Homo sapiens: one gene and its partners. The protein of the gene in region 4 purifies or fractionates together with the protein of the main gene of each other region. This does not show direct contact. Each region holds a gene or a part of one and is shown on either strand. Other genes may lie near its edges.

The links. Proteins that work in one complex are often made in the same cells at the same time.
Region 1: the proteins of EXOC3 (region 4) and MACROD1 purify together in Homo sapiens (affinity purification with mass spectrometry; 2 studies listed by BioGRID and IntAct, with this or other methods). This does not show direct contact.
Region 2: the proteins of EXOC3 (region 4) and PIBF1 purify together in Homo sapiens (affinity purification with mass spectrometry; 2 studies listed by BioGRID and IntAct, with this or other methods). This does not show direct contact.
Region 3: the proteins of EXOC3 (region 4) and TRIP11 purify together in Homo sapiens (co-immunoprecipitation; 3 studies listed by BioGRID and IntAct, with this or other methods). This does not show direct contact.

What each region holds. Positions count from the first base shown.
Region 1 is NC_000011.10:64,009,114-64,012,613, forward strand, and holds part of MACROD1 (ADP-ribose glycohydrolase MACROD1), read right to left. Parts: intron 1-3,500. UniProt on the Homo sapiens protein: Removes ADP-ribose from aspartate and glutamate residues in proteins bearing a single ADP-ribose moiety. Inactive towards proteins bearing poly-ADP-ribose.
Region 2 is NC_000013.11:72,795,633-72,799,132, reverse strand, and holds part of PIBF1 (progesterone-induced-blocking factor 1), read right to left. Parts: intron 1,227-3,500; coding exon 1,107-1,226; intron 1-1,106.
Region 3 is NC_000014.9:92,012,560-92,016,059, forward strand, and holds part of TRIP11 (thyroid receptor-interacting protein 11), read right to left. Parts: intron 3,303-3,500; coding exon 3,137-3,302; intron 2,019-3,136; coding exon 1,656-2,018; intron 1-1,655.
Region 4 is NC_000005.10:445,105-450,600, reverse strand, and holds part of EXOC3 (exocyst complex component 3), read right to left. Parts: intron 4,452-5,496; 5' UTR 4,396-4,451; coding exon 4,252-4,395; intron 3,781-4,251; exon of another isoform or gene 3,393-3,780; intron 3,263-3,392; exon of another isoform or gene 3,209-3,262; intron 3,069-3,208; coding exon 2,849-3,068; intron 1-2,848. UniProt on the Homo sapiens protein: Component of the exocyst complex involved in the docking of exocytic vesicles with fusion sites on the plasma membrane.

The DNA of each region.
Region 1 (3,500 bases), on a different chromosome or scaffold from region 4:
GCTCCTTATCTCCGAGTAAACATTTCAGTCCTAATAAACAGGAGAGACACGGGCGTCAGGGCTCTGTCGATTCCCATCCTGATTTAGGACCTGCCTCCCTTCTTACCATACAATAGGAGAGTGTTTTAAAAAATGTTTTTATTGAGCCAGTAAAAGCTTTCCAGGAGGGAGGTGGGAGAGAGGAGGGGGCCTGGCAGACACCAGGCCAAAGGGTCTGTCGGGAAGGCTGGCAGCTGCCCCAAGCCCATCAAGCCTTCCTGAAGCAGACACAGGCCTTCCCCCTGGGGGGCCCGTCCATCCTGCTCTACCTGCAGAACTCCTATTTAGCCTTCGGGACCCAAGTCAAATGCTCCCTCTGCTGGGAAGCCTCCTACCAAACTGGGTCTCCCTGAAGGCAGAGCCAAGCCCTGAGTCCCAGCATTTGGCATAGCTCCCTCAACTCAGAGAGAGCTCCAGGGAAGAATGGGTAGTAAGGGAGTAGGGGGACTTCCCCAGGACTCACTGCATTGCCAGCACCATCTAGTTCGGCCCCAGGGTGTGGTGGGTGGGGGTCCAGGCCCAGAGTGAGGCAGGCACAGGAGTCCTGTGCCCTCCAGGTTAAGTCCCTTTAGCCCCAGCAGCCCCTGGGGGCTCTCACTGCATTGGGGGTGCCCGGGAGACTCCCTTCTCTGCTCCCCTGAGACTGCAGCCCTCTTCTGCTCTAAATCACCGCACATTTGCCGTAAAAACAGTGGGCTCGGGCCCCAAAGCCCTGCAGGCCAGTCCCAGCCCCATCTTCTGAGCCCCAGTTGCGCCGGCCCCTCCTGGCAGGAACTCCACGCCACTACCCACACCAGGGTGTTGGCCGGGGTGTTGGCTGGGATGTTGGTTGGGTTGTTGCCTGGGGTATTGGTTGGGGTGTTGGTTGGGGTGTTGGCTGGGTTGTTGGTTGGGGTGTTGGCTGGGGTGTTGGCTGGGGTGTTGCCCAGGGTGTTGGTTGGGGTGTTGGTTGGGGGGTTGGCTGGGGTGTTGGTTGGGGGGTTGGTTGGGGTGTTGGTTGAAGTGTTGCCTGGGGTGTTGGTTGGTGTGTTGGCTGGGGTGTTGGTTGGCATATTGGTTGGGGTGTTGCCCAGAGTGTTAGCTGGGGTGTTGGTTGGGGTGCTGGCTGGCATGTTGGTTGGGGTGTTGGCTGGCATGTTGGGGTGTTGGAGTGTTGGCTGGTATGTTGTTTGGGGTGTTGGTTGGGGTGTTGGTTGGAGTGTTGGTTGGAGTGTTGGCTGGGATGTTGGCTGGGGTGTTGACCGGGGTGTTGGCTGGAGTGTTGGTTGAGATGTTGGCTGACATGTTGGGGTGTTGGTTGGGGTGCTGGCTGGCATGTTGGTTGGGGTGTTGGCTGGGGTGTTGGTTGGGGTGTTGGTTGGTGTGTTGGTTGGGGCGTTGGCTGGCATGTTGGTTGGCATGTGTTGGTTGGGATGTTGGCTGGCATGTTGATTGGGGTGTTGGCTGCCATGTTGCTTGAGGTGTTGGCTGGGGTGTTGGTTGGAGTGTTGTTTGGGGTGTTAGTTGGGGTGCTGGCTGGTGTGTTGGTTGGGGTGTTGGCTGGCATGTTGGCTGGCATGTTGGTTGGGGTGTTGGTTGGCATGTTGGTTGGGGTGTTGGCTGGCATATTGGTTGGCACGAGTTGGTTGGGGTGTTTGGGATGTTGGCTGGCATGTTGGTTGGGGTATTGGTTGGGGTGTTGGCTTGCATGTTGGCTGGAGTGTTGGTTGGGGTGTTTGCTGGTGTATTGTTTGGGGTGTTGGCTGGCATGTTGGTTGGGGTGTTGGCCAGGGTGTTGGCTGGCATGTTGGTTGGGGTGTTGGCTGGCATGTTGGTTGGCATGTGTTGGTTGGGGTGTTGGTTGGGATGTTGGCTGGTGTGTTGGTTGAGGTGTTGGTTGGGATGTTGGCTGGCGTGTTGGCTGGCATGTTGGTTGGGGTGTTGAAGTGTTGGCTGGGGTGTTGGTTGGCATGTTGGTTGGGGTGTTGGCTGGCATATTGGTTGGCACGAGTTGGTTGGGGTGTTAGGATGCTGGTTGGCATGTTGGTTGGGGTATTTGTTGGGGTGTTGGCTGGCGTGTTGGCTGGGGTGTTGGTTGGGGTGTTGGTTGGGGTGTTTGCTGGTGTATTGTTTGGGGTGTTGGCTGGCATGCTGGTTGGGGTGTTGGCTGGCATGTTGTTGGGGTGTTGGCTGGCATGTTGGTTGGGCTGTTGGCTAGGATGCTGATTGGGGTGTTGGCCAGGGTGTTGCCTGCTGCCCCTCTCCATTGAGGGACTGGCAGACTGGCAGTCCCCAGGGTGAGGGGATGGGATGTGGGTGCCAGACTGAGAGCTGTGTCCCTGGCTCCCAGGGCACACAGAGGGTGCCACTCACTGCACCACAGATGTTAATTATTTACTTCAAAGCAGGAAGCTCTTCTAGGAGCTCAGAATCTCCCATAACCCTGCCCTCGGGGGAGTCCATTCCGGTGGGGAGGCAGGCAATGAAGAACAAACACAAAACGCAAGCAGGGAATCAGGGCTGCGGGACGAAGACATGGAGCAGGGCAGTGCATCAGGGTTCTGGGCAGAGTGGCCAGGGCAGGCAGGATGGCCCTTGTGCGTGTTCGAACAATGGGTGGCTGGTCATGGGAGGGGCGCGGGTAGAGGCCTGAACTCCTGTAGGAGGGATGTCCAGGGACCCCACGGGAAGATGGGTGTGTCTGGGCAGAGTCAGATGGGGTCTAACTTGGGCAGGTAGGCGATTAGGACTGGATGAACTCAAAGGATGGTGGGAGGAGCAGGGGTATAGGGGAGGGCAGAGCACCTCCGGGGACCAGGCTGGGCTCCATTCCAGCCCCAGCATCGTCCCTACCACAGCCCCCTCCCCACCACCTCCACTGTGTTCCAATCACATTAGCAGAGTGACAGTCCCAGCAAGTGCTGGCGGCGGCTCCATAAATCTCAGCCCATGTTAAAAGGTTGGACTCCGGGCCCACTTCCTCCAGGGGCACCCGCCCCGTCCATCTCTCCATCAGTCAGGTTGTGTGAGAGGCCTGTGCCAGCCGCTCCGCACCCCTAAATGCTGGAAGGAGAACCAGAGAGACCTCTGCCATGCCTCTGAGTGGCCAGGGCAGGGCCCCTCCACTTCCTAGAGTGAGGTCACAGGCCATCTGTGAGCCACTCCTGGATTTGCCAAAACATCTTTGGTTTCCACCAGCTGCCCTTGGGTAAGTCCGTTGCTTAATGTGTAGGGTCATCTCCACCTTTACCTGTAGTTCATTCATTCAATAAACTTTTTTTTTTTTTGAGACAGGGTCTCGCTGTGTTACCCAAGCTGGAGTGCAGTGGTGTGATCTTGGCTCACTGCAGCCCCTGCCTATGGGGTTCAAGCAATTCTCCTGCCTCAGCCTTCTGAGTAGCTGGGATTACAGGTGTGTACCACCATGCCCAGCTAATTTTTGTATTTTTAGTAGAGACGGGGCTTCACCATGTTGGCTAGGC
Region 2 (3,500 bases), on a different chromosome or scaffold from region 4:
CATTAAATGACCTGGTCATGGTCACACAGTAAATGAGAGTGTCAAAATATCACCTAACGTTCTAATCCTAACCTGCTAGAAAGTAAACTCTAGAAGGGCAGGCATTGCCTCTCTTGGGTTCACTGCCAGCACCTAGCACAGCACCATGCACACCACTGGGGTTAATGCTAGTATCAGTACACATGCTCAGAATAAATATTATGAGAGTTAACTGCACTTCACAAAGAAGCCACGTAAGTAATAAATGGACAGTAGCTCCATCTCATATCACGAACAAGGCTAACTTGTAATGAAGAACTGCAGCAGCCCCCATTTGTAAACTAGAAGTGTTTTCCTTTTAGAATAACGAAATATTTGAAGAAAAACAGCCACCCATTTCCAACTGTTACATGGTAGAATGAATCAATCTACCATTATTTTTTTGTTAGTAGACTATAACTACAAGATAGTATTCTAGGATATCTGGTCAATAATACAACCAAGTTAATGATTAGTCCACCCTTCTATATAAATGTTGATTTATGATTACTATATTCATCGTCTAGGCTGAGATAATTTTGAAAATAAAGGGGTGCTATTAATATTTATTCACAGGAATAATGGCAACAGTCTTAGGCAAACCAGAACCTACGAGTCAACTTAGTTCAAAGTAAAAATATTCTCCTTTTCTTCTTTCTTATGGCACCTGCAAGAGATCCCCTGCATAGCTTGGCCTACATTTCTTGTTTCTTGCTTAAATTTCCTGACAAAGTGATGTTAAAAATAGAGACAAATTACTAAATAAATACATGCATATGCGTCATCTAAGGATACACAGCAATTTTCAGATATAGCCCATATTAGGATTTCAAAAGCAGTTGATTATAAAATTGACTTGCAACAATAAAAGCTCAACTATAGGATACGTCAATAACACAGACTTGTCTTGTCAATGTTTAAGATGACTACTTCCAATTTAACCTCCTTCCCATTATTGAACTGTAGCAGTCACCATCCCATAGTCCCATTTTTCAATCACTGACTTTTATATGCCTTATCACAAATCCTGAGGGACTCTACAGAAAAAGCCGAAGCTTCTTCCCACCAGCAATCAAAACCATACAAACCTCTGTCAGCTGCTTCAGTTGGTTTTTGTTTGTACTTAATTCTTCTGCTAGGATATTCTTTTTCACTTGTAGTTCACAGATTTCCTTTCTTAATGGATTCACTAGCTCATAGAAGCGAACCTTGAAAAAAATTAAATTAATAAGCAGTCTTAAATCCAAATTACAATTAAAATTTGTAATTTGTAGTGCTCTCACTTATCAGTAATAAAGATAAATATTTACAAAACTACAACAAGACAGTCATTAATGGACCCTAGCCACTAATACTTTCTATCAAGCCTTAATGTTCAATTAACTTCCCTCAAGGGCCAGATGATTTATAACCTCTTACCTTTGACAGTATTTCCTCCCTTCTACTGACACTCCATTACTACTCATCTACTACTGCTCACTCCACACTAGGTGCTTGTAAACTTCTGGAACATATCACAAATGTTCAGGAGTCTTGCTCTTGCTGTTTCTTCTGCTAGAGAAGTTCTTCCCCCATATAAATGCATGGCTCATGCCTTGTCTCCCTATAGGTCTCTGACCAAATATTACCTTGTTAGTAAAGCCCTCCCTGATTTCTTTACCTAATTTTAAGTAGCACTCCCTATTTTTCACCCCTGCTCTTTTCTCTGTAGCACCTTTGACAAACAGATATTCTACATATTTAATTTTTAAGTTATTGCCTGTGTTGCTCCACTTTCACAACCTGAGGGCAGGGATTTTTGTCTGGTTTATACACCGCTGTATTTCCAATGCCTAAATATATGATAAGCACTCAATAAATACTTGATGAAGAGGTAAAGTGTATTCTTTATTTTCATCCCAGGCTCTTGGCAAAGCTTTATTTACTGCTGTCCCTACAGTGGAAGTCTAATCAGAATGAATCAAGAGGTATCTTTCACATCATTACTTCCATTTAGTTCAGGTCTCTCTTTCCACTCATACTTGTCTCAGAGAAATTTTCCTACCCTAGCTCAGTAAAGTGTTCCATCTGACAAGGTCCCATAAAACTAAGAAATCATCACAGCAAATTAGGAGAGAGTAATTAGGGGCTATCATATAGGCATGCAATCTGAAACTCCTTAACATATGACGGTATTACAAGAATACCATTATTTGGTAAGAGGCAAATCTTAATACTAGCCCTCAACAAAAAGAATCTGCATATAATTAATTAGTTAAGGATAATATTGTCTGTGAAAACAAAAGATGTAAGAAGGAATATTAAGAAAACAAACAGCAAAAATATGTGTAACTGCCACCAGTGTGATACTTTATATCTACTGTAAATGAAGCCTCAAAAACAGAATTTGAGATATTTAATTTGTTTTGGACAGTATACTTTGGACAGAAAAGCTGTATTTGAGCCTTTTAAAAAAAAAAAAAAAACAGCTGAACAAAAAAGTAACTTCATTTTATCAGACATCACTAATCTGCAAATCTTTTCCCAATGAGAACCAAGAATAGCAACCACCACTCCAGCAAAAACAATAGACAACATTTTTATGTGTTTACTATCTTCTAAGCACTATGCTCACAAGCATTTTACATACATAGTTATAGTCTTTACAATTATCCCCAATAGAAACGCACCGTTACTATTAACCCTTTTTAGGGATTAAAAAATTCAAGCCTCTCAGGGTAAAATGACATCTACATATTAAAAAGCAGCAGTTCTCAACATATGGTTTTGGGACTCCTGGACTCTGCCCCACTCGCCACTCTGAGATCCTTTCAGGGAATTCACAAGATCAAAACGACTTTCCTAGTAATTATTAAGATTTTTTTTCCCCGTTTCATTCTCATTCTCTCATGACTGTTCAGTGGAGTTTGCCAGTGGCTACATGACATATGACATTATCACTCTTAAGGCCAATGGAATTGTGTGCTTATTCTTGTGTTTAAAAAAGTTGTTAGTTTAAAATTCTAGTATGGTAAATATTAATAGATACAGCCCATATAAACAAACACTCATTGGGGTCCTCAATAACTTTTAGAATGTAAATGAATGCTGACACCAAAATATTTGAGACCACTGCCATAGATTAATCCTAGGTGTTCTAGATTTGTGTAACCAGCACTGCAATCAAGATCTTGCGCCAATCTCTCACCACAAAGTTCTTTCTCATCCTATCCCTTTATAACCACGCTGACTCCTCTCTCCCACTATCCCCAACCAACCCCTGGCAACAACTACTCTGTTGTTTATAATTTTTCATTTTGAGAATGTAAGAAACCACCAGTTTACGATAATTCATTTCTATGGACTATGCAGTCATTAACTTCAGAAACCTATTTATTGCTTGACTTTGGAGATCAATGGTCATGATCCTTTAAAATTTGGATCTCAACACCATTCACCATCCATAGCCATAAAATAATGTATCAATTGGGTACTTCAAAAGT
Region 3 (3,500 bases), on a different chromosome or scaffold from region 4:
AAGTGGCAGTGCTAGGTACTTCTCAGTGGAGGTTAATACCTGCACTGAATCAATATACTGAGAGTCGGCTAAAAGAGCCATAGAGACACTCCACACAGAGAAAGCAGAAAATGCAAGGGTAACAGAGTGAAGAGGTAACATTGCTGCTTTAAGGAGCTATAGAAAATTCAATATGGTTCAAGTTTAGAATGTCAGGAGCATGGGAATAGTTGAAACTGAAGAGATAGGCAGGAACTAGATCATGAGAGACATTATCATGTCTAACTAAGAAATTTAAACATCATCCCGAAGTTCACAGGCAGCTATAAAGTACTAAATGCAGGGGAGTAACCTGCTTTGCATTTCTGACAAATTATTCTGGCTGCAGAATGAAAAAAATAGATTGAAGGAATCATGGAGAACAGAGAATTTTAAAAGCTAACTCTTCAGCTGGGGGCGGTGGCTCACGCCTGTAATCCCAGCACTTTGGGTGGCCAAGGTGGGCAGATCATGAGGTCAAGAGATCGAGATCATCCTGGCCAACATGGTGAAACCCTGTCTCTACTAAAAATACAAAAATTAGCTGGGCGTGGTGACACATGCTTGTAGTCCCAGCTACTTGGGAGGCTGAGGGAGGAGCATCACTTGAACCCGGGAGGTGGAGGTTGCAGTGAACCGAGATCGTGCCACTGCACTCCAGTCTGAGCTACAGAGCGAGACTCTGTCTCAAAAAAACAAACAAAAAAAAAGCTAACTCTTCAACATTTACTATTGGCTAGACACTATCCTAAAGAGCGGCAGAAAGTAACTCATATAATCCTCATTACTAAAACTACAAGGAAGATACCATTATTATCCCAACCCTATAGATGAAATAACCAATGCATAGAGATGTTAACCTGTCCAAGGTCAGCTAATTAGTGATAGAGCTCGATTCCAACCCAGTCATGTCCTTAACCACTACGCTATTCTGCTCCATTCAGAGAGCTGCCATAGTTAACATAGGCAAAAAGCAATTATGACTGGCTGAAGTAATTCTGTGTCAATGGAATAGAAAAAAGAGGAAGGACTAAGGCAGTGGGTTTGTCTTTTAAGCACATAAACTCATCTGGATCACCCAATATGATAAGTAAGTAAATGTATTAGTCTTATGTAAGTAAATTTATTTTTTAAATAAGTAAACTTATTTTTTAAAACGTAAGTACAATTACTTTAAAATTTATTTTATTTACTGGTGTTTGGCCTATTTCATTTAGTACTAATTTTCTGTAACACAGAATACTGGTACAGTAACTAAATATCATCATGAGCATAGAAAATGGTGGAAGACCTATGGCTCTAAGCACTCAGGGCTTTGCTTGGATATAGGAGATCGTTTCAAACAGGTAACAACTGACTTTGAAGAAGAAAGGCTGTATTCCCTAACTGGAGGATGTGGGCTGTGATGAGTTACAGAAAGTATAGCAATACCTAATCCTTTTTAATAGGAAATTCCTATTTGCAATCTATTAACTCTTACACTGAATCCAAACCACACAATTCTACCCAAATGACACACAGTCATTTCCAGGAATATGCCATTTCCACTAAGTATTCAGTTAGTGAAGCATCTGTCTCTAAAAACAACTACTATGCAATGAAACAGCAATCTGAAATAAGTTCCAAAGACTGTATACCAGACAGTGCTTGTTGTAGTCTGAACACTTCTTCCACTGATGCACTCTGGGCAAGAATTCTTTCCTTTTCTGTCATAGTATCACTTTGCTTCACAGCAGAAGGCTGCAATTTACTACATTCCAATTTCAAGTTTTCACATTCTTCCATTATTTGTCTCTTTTCCACATTTAGCTGTTCTTGTTCTCTCCTCAAAATATCTCTGTCATTTTCTGCAGAAGATAATTTTTTATTTATATCTTTTATTTTATCCTCAAGTTGTTCCATTTTTTTGGTAGACTCCACTTTTTCTATTTGTAGAACTTGAATAGTTTTTTGCATCTCATAGATTTTAGAGAGATCAGTTTCTATAACTCCAGAGCCACCTAGAACATAAACACAAAACAATGACATCAAATGTCAAGTACCAAGAAATAAACGGTTTGCTATATACAACTAAGAGATATAAGACAGTTCAGAATTTGGAAAGCTTAAAAGTTAAATTACTATAATAAACTAAGTGTTTTAAAATAAATAAGTTGGGGGAAAATATTTGAATCAACTACATAAAGGCCTATGTATCTTAGTTTGAAAGAAAGTGATAATATCTCTAATCATTTATTACCAAAGTATCATCACCAAACAATGCAAAGAAATCTATAAATTATAACTATTTACCACAAAGGTAAAAAGGACATTTCCATTTTCACAGAATTTTTTTTTTTTTTTTGAGATGGAGTCTCACTCTGTTGCCCAGGCTGGAGGGCAGTGGTGCCATCTCGGCTCACTGCAACCTCTGCCTCCTGGGCTCAAGTGATCCTCCCACCTCAGCCTCCTGAGTAGCTGGGACCACAGGCGAGCACCACCACGTCCAGCTAATTTTTGTATTTTTAGTAGAGACGGGATTTCGCCATGTTGGCCAGGCTGGTCTCAAACTCCTGGCCTCAAGTGATCCACACACCTTGGCCTCCCAAAATGCTGGGGTTATAGCCATAAGCCACCACTCCCGGCCACAGAATCTTAAAAGCAGAGGTGCCACTGCAAATTTCTGGCAGATAAGCAGAACTAGTCATTTACACTTCCTTATAACTTAGGGCAAGTTTACAGCACTGTCCTGGTCTTAGAATGCTAGGTCTATCATTTAGTTATGTCATCTAATATGTTAAATTAATAAAACTATCAACTGGCCAGGTGCAGTGGCTCATGCCTGTAATCCTAGCACTTTGGGAGGCCGAGGTGGGTGGACCACCCGAGATCACGAGTTTGGGACCAGCCTGGCCAATATGGCGAAACCCTATTGCTACTAAAAATACAAAAATTAGCTGGGCATGGTGGCAGGCACCTGTAATCCAGCTACTTGGGAGGCTGATGCAGGAGAATCGCTTGAACCCGGGGGGCGGAGGTTGCAGTGAGCCGAGATCGCGCCAGTGCACTCCAGCCTGGGCAACAGATGGAGACTCCATCTCAAAAAAAATAATAATAATAAAGAAATAAAACTAATAACCTTGTTGTAACAGATTTTCAAGTTCTTCAATTCGTTCTTCATAGTCACTTAATTCTTCTCGATGTCGTCGACTTATTTCTGTCAATTTCTGTTGGTGTGCATTCTGCAGTACTGACATTTCATGTTGATGGTCATCAATTTCCTGACTTCGGTTCTGTTTTAGTTCCTTAAAAAATAAAAACAAAGTTATTCACATTTATAATCAATAAATTTATGTAAGCTATATATTTAACTGTTGTCCAAAAGTGTGCATTATTAAAAAGAATTCTCAGAACATGTTAAGGCTGAAAAGAATTTAAACACAGACCCAAAATTAGGACTATTCTGAACAACTTCACCCTTTCCTTTCTTAGGTCTCAAAAAC
Region 4 (5,496 bases):
AAGCAGACAGAAGCTAAACAAGGAAAGAGAGGACTTGAACAATGCAACCAACCAACCAGACTGAACAGACACAGAAAGAACACCCAACAACAGAACACACACTATTCTCACGTGCACATGGGACAGTCTTCAGGAAAGACCATGGATTAGGCCTCAAATTAAGACTCAGGTTTTTAAAAGATAAATATCATACAAAGTATCTTCTCCAAACTCAACAGATGACATTAGAAATCAGTATCAGAAGGAAAACTGTAAAATTCACCAATTTGTGGAAATTAAACAACATACTCTTAAACAATTAATGGGGCAAAAAAGGAAACATAAGGGACTTTTGTTTTGTTTTGTTTTGTTTTTCAGATGAAGTCTCGCTCTTGTCCCCCTGGCTGGAGTGCAGTGGTGCGATCTCGGCTCACTGTGACCTCTGCCTCCTGGGTTCAAGTGATTCTCCTGCCTCAGCCTCCTGAGTAGCTGGGATTACAGGCGCCTGCCACCACGCCCGGCTAATTTTTATATTTTTAGTAGAGACGGGGTTTCACCATGTTGGCCGGGCTGGTCTCAAACTCCTGACCTCAGGTGATCCGCCTGCCTCAGCCTTCCAAAGTGCTGGGATGACGGGCGTGAGCCACCGCACCCAGCCATAAGGGATATTTTTAAAAACCTAAGAGAAGAATGAAAATGCAGACGAATCAGAAACCTCACACACTCATGGTGGAAAATGCTGCAGCCACCGGAGGAAACAGTCTGGCAGCTGCTCAAAGATTTAAACATAAATTACCACATGGTCCAGCAATTACACTTGTGTGTATATACCAGAAAGAAATAAAAGTAAAACATCTGTACACCCATGTTCACTACAGCATTATTCACAATAGCTAAAACGTGGAAGCAATTCAAATGTCCACCAACAGACAAACGGATAAGCAAAATGTGGTCCATCCATACAATGGAATATTATTCAGCCTTAAAAGTGAAGGAAATTCTACAATACCACAGCATAGAAGACCCCTGAGGACATCATGCTGAGTGAAATAAGCATGTCACAGAAAGACAGATAATGTGTGATGCCACTTCTATGAGGTCTTCAGAGTCATCCAATTCACAGAGACAGAAGGCAGAATGGTGGTGACCAGGAGCTGGGGCAGAGGGTGCGAAGTCAGTGTTTAATGGGTACAGATTTTCATGTCTGCAAGATGAAAAGAGTTCTGAAGACGGATGTGGCAATGGTTGCACAACAATATGAATGTTCTTAATAGTCCCCAACTGTACACTTAAAAATGGTTAAGACGGCAAACTGTACATATGCATTTTAGAAGAAGAAAAAATGGGGGAGGGGAGCTGTGTACACAGCATTGCTGAGTTATAGGCAATGAGACAAGTCTGAAGGCAACCAAACCAATCTTCTCAATGAAAATTTATCCGTAACAAAAAACATGCATACCACGCAGGCTCATTTGTTCACCAAGGAAAGGAAATTATTTTCAACTGCTGTGGATAAACTAATTCCAGTAATGCACCTTTTTGGTCATCAGGCATTAGTTTAAAAGACCGGAAGGAAATGTAGCCAGCCAATACGAAATAAGAGGAAATTAACTAGAAAGCTGCCAGCTGAGCATCACCAAGGAGACTCCGTCGAGAGGACTTTATTCCTGTTCCAGGCGGCCCACAGTCACCAAGAAGAGCTGCTTTCTGAGTTGGCAGCACAGTGGCGTTCGTGTTGGGCATGCACAAAGAGACACGGACTGCAGCCACACATGTGACCCTACGGATCATGCCCTGGAAGAAGGGCACACACAAAGCAACGGGACAAGGTGCTCGGCAATGCTGCAGCCGCAAGCACGAGAGGAGGGCAGAGAGGACAGGGTGGACGGGACACGGATTACCAAGGTGCGCTGTGGGCAGCTGGGGAGAACCGCGCCAATTCACACGTGGCCTCAGGAGCCGAGCAGCGTCACAGATGATGCAGCACAGCCACTGTGAAGGGTGAGCTGGGGCACGTGACGGCTGGGGATGGGGAAGTGTCATACAGACATCAGGGCAGAGACGTCTGGTAGAGGAACAGGAAGAACTTGCCAAGAGGCCAGAGACAGGAACAAAGAAAGGGAAGGAATCAGACCCTGCCAAGGCTTCTGAGTTGGGGACTGGAAGGATGCTGCTGACCTTGACACAGAGCGGGGACCAAGGGGAGGGATGAGGCTGTGGAAGCAGCTCCTGTCACAGCAAGCAGGAGGAGACTGTGAACACAAATGCTGGGAGCCACCACCCAGGGCCAGCTGGCACCGTTCAGGGACAGGTTACAGGGCCCTTGGCATCCTTCTAACTGAGGCATTCAGGGAGAAGACTGAAAGGGTCACTCCCCCACGGCGCTCAGCCCCGCCTCTGCCCTGGCCTGTGCACACACGCTTCTCCTCCTGCCTGGGAGCTGCTGCTCGCCTCAACCCTTCTGCTCTGGGATCTGCTTGCTCTGTCCCATGCACAGGGTGGCTTCTCCTGCAGCTCCTTTTAAGCATGGGCCACGGCGTCTTCATTCTTCTGCACTCACAGAGTCTAACAGCCACATCGCAAGCAAGGGAACGACACTCAGCCAGGGAATCCCTCCACACTGCATTTGCTGGGCAGCCCGCTTCTGGGCCTCTGTCCTGACACTGAACTACAAGCCTTCTCCTAGCCTTTACATGCTCAGCTGATCACTTCCATCCACGTTCAAAAAAAGACGCTGAGCAGACAAGAATCACACTTACCGTCTACAGGTCTACAGTGCGGGCTGCAAAGCACACTGCACACAGAGCACTCAGTGAGTCATGCAAAGACAGCGTGAGTGGGGGCAAGTGCCTCGGCGTCTGGCTGGTACCTGAGAAGATGTTCTTGAGGTTCTCCACGGCTGCGGCGAGCTGGCTGTGCTGCACCACGGCGTCTTTGACGTCCTTGAGGCTCTCAATGGTGTTGATGCTCTGCCTCCAGTCCTTGCTGACGTCTGCCAGCGACTGCTGGATGTCTTTGACGTCATTCAGGGCGTTGTGGAGCTGGCTGAGGCCTGTGCGCACCCCGTCCAACTGTGACTGGATGGCGGCCTAAAGAGAGACGCCACACGGGTGAGCAGAGCCAATGATAGCCATGCGCTGCCTCCTGAAGAACAAATCTTCCCCAGGAGGGTCAAGTTCAGGAAAGAGCCACTGAGTAGCAGGAAACAGTCAATACCCAGAAAAGAAAATAAAATCAACAAGGATTTAATTGATTCACAGTGTACCTTTTTCTTCATTGCTGCCTGGGAACAGAACAATGATGCATTTTAAAGCCTTGATGAGAAAAGGTCAGGACACTCCTCATCTAGCCTCACACCTGGTGATCCTGGACACTACCACGGGTCTGCCCTGGGCCGTGGCCTGCTACGGTACCTTCAGAAGGATGTCACCCATGCTCTCCCAGGCATCCTAGGTTCCTAAAAGGTCTTGTCTAGGCAGAGAGAACGGTCAGGACTTCACTGGCTTGGGGTGGGGGAGTTCCTGCTGTTCAGCCAGCACCACACTTGGCCCCAGGACGGCTGACCCACAGGACAGAATCGGCACCTGAGCTTCAGATCCGCTCTCTGTCAAATGTGAGTTAAAACAATCTGAACAAAATGCCCTCTAGTGGTGCTCTGTAGAAGAGCTTTAAATAAGACTACTTCTCCTTCCTCCAGTATTGTTTAAAAACTTAATAGACACTTTCAGGGTGTTGTTTTTGTTTCTGTGTTTTTTTTTTCTTTTTGAGACAGAGTCTCACTCTGTTGCCCAGGCTGGAATGCAATGGCACCATCTCGGCTCACCGCAACCTCTGCCTCCTGGGTTCAAGCGATTCTCTTGCCTCAGCCTCCCAAGTAGCTGGGATTACAGGCGTCAACCATCATGCCTGGCTAATTTTTGTATTTTCATAGAGACAGGGTTTCACCATGTTGACCAGGCTGGTCTTGAACTCCTGACCTCAGGTGATCCGCCTGCCTCGGCCTCCCCGAGGTGCTGGGATTACAGGCATGAGTCACCGCACCCGGCCTCAGGGTGTTTAAAAGCTTGTTCCTTTGGTGTTTTCACCATTCCCACTGTCTTCTAAGCAAAGCTACTGAGTGGTAATACACTGCTGAAAGTAACTGCTCAAGAAAGTCCAGCTCTGCCTCCTTGCACATTACCATAAAGGCTAGTTTAGCAAAATCATCATGGTGATGTCAAGCAAGAACCTGAAGCCCAAGACAGATCCTGGGAGTGGGGCAGGTGGCCTCACCTTCAATCTGGCCTCCACGGAGGCCTTCTTCCGCGCTTCTCTCCTGCGATACTGCTCCACCTTGTCCAGCTGGTCCGGGCGCTGGAGCATCCCAGCAACCCTTTGCACTGCTGTCGCAACGGCCTCCCGGTCTGTCTCCTTCATGGTGAAAAAGCTGGTGGAATCCTCACACTGTTCATGCTAGGGGTGTTCTCTGTGCACTGCAGGAGTTGTTAGGACGGTAGAAATGTTAGGTACAAAACCTCCCCCAAACTATCAGGTGATCACAGTGGAGCTACAAGCAGAGCCTCTGAGATCATTAATCCAGGAAACCTCAAAGAAAGCTGAACTAGGATGAGGAACTCCTTGATAAGATAAACAAACCTTCGTAACACAAACATGCAGAAGTTATACCTTTAAGGGGAGAGCAGGGGCGTTTCACAGGCATGAGAGACATGGACATTGCGAAGATTCTAGATGTGGGTCCCAGACCACCCAGCATGTAGATGTCAGCCTCAAAGGCACATCTCTCCCCAAGACAGGGCTGGTTTCTCATTTCGGGAGCTTTCCCCCAGCACCTTGGCCAGGCCTGTGGGCAGCTGCACCAGGACCCTCAGTGAAGACAAATACAGCGTGGACAACTCCCCCGACCAGGTACCACAGCTGGAGGCCCAGCACAAGCCCCACAATTCCCACCCTATAAAAGTGACAATAGTCAGCCAGGCCCGGTGGCTCACGCCTGTAATCCCAGCACTTTGGCAGGCCGAGGCGGGTGGATCACGAGGTCAGGAGATCGAGACCATCCTGGCTAACATGGTGAAACCCTGTATCTACTAAAAATACACACAAAAAAATTAGCTGGGCATGTTGGTGGGTGCCTGTAGTCCCAGCTACTCGGGAGGCTGAGGCAGGAGACTGGCGTGAACCCCGGAGGCGGAGCTTGCAGTCAGCCGAGATCGCGCCACTGCACTCCAGCCTGGGCGACAGAGCGAGACTCCGTCTCAAAAAAAAAAAAAAGAAAAAAAAAGAAAAAGTCATTATTGTCTTGGGTATCCAAAACCCCATTTCCCCCTTTTTTAACTGTCCTAGAAAACATCATGCTTCCCTCCTTTATGCAGGCCCCGTGCAGACCACAGGTGCTCAGATGCCAGGCAAGCCTGCCTTCCATGCTCCCTCCACCATCGTCCTCCTCGGGGAGCTAACACAGCTGCTTGGTGAGCATCAGTCAATGAGGGAATCCGATACACCTGTTCCCCTTGACTTCAG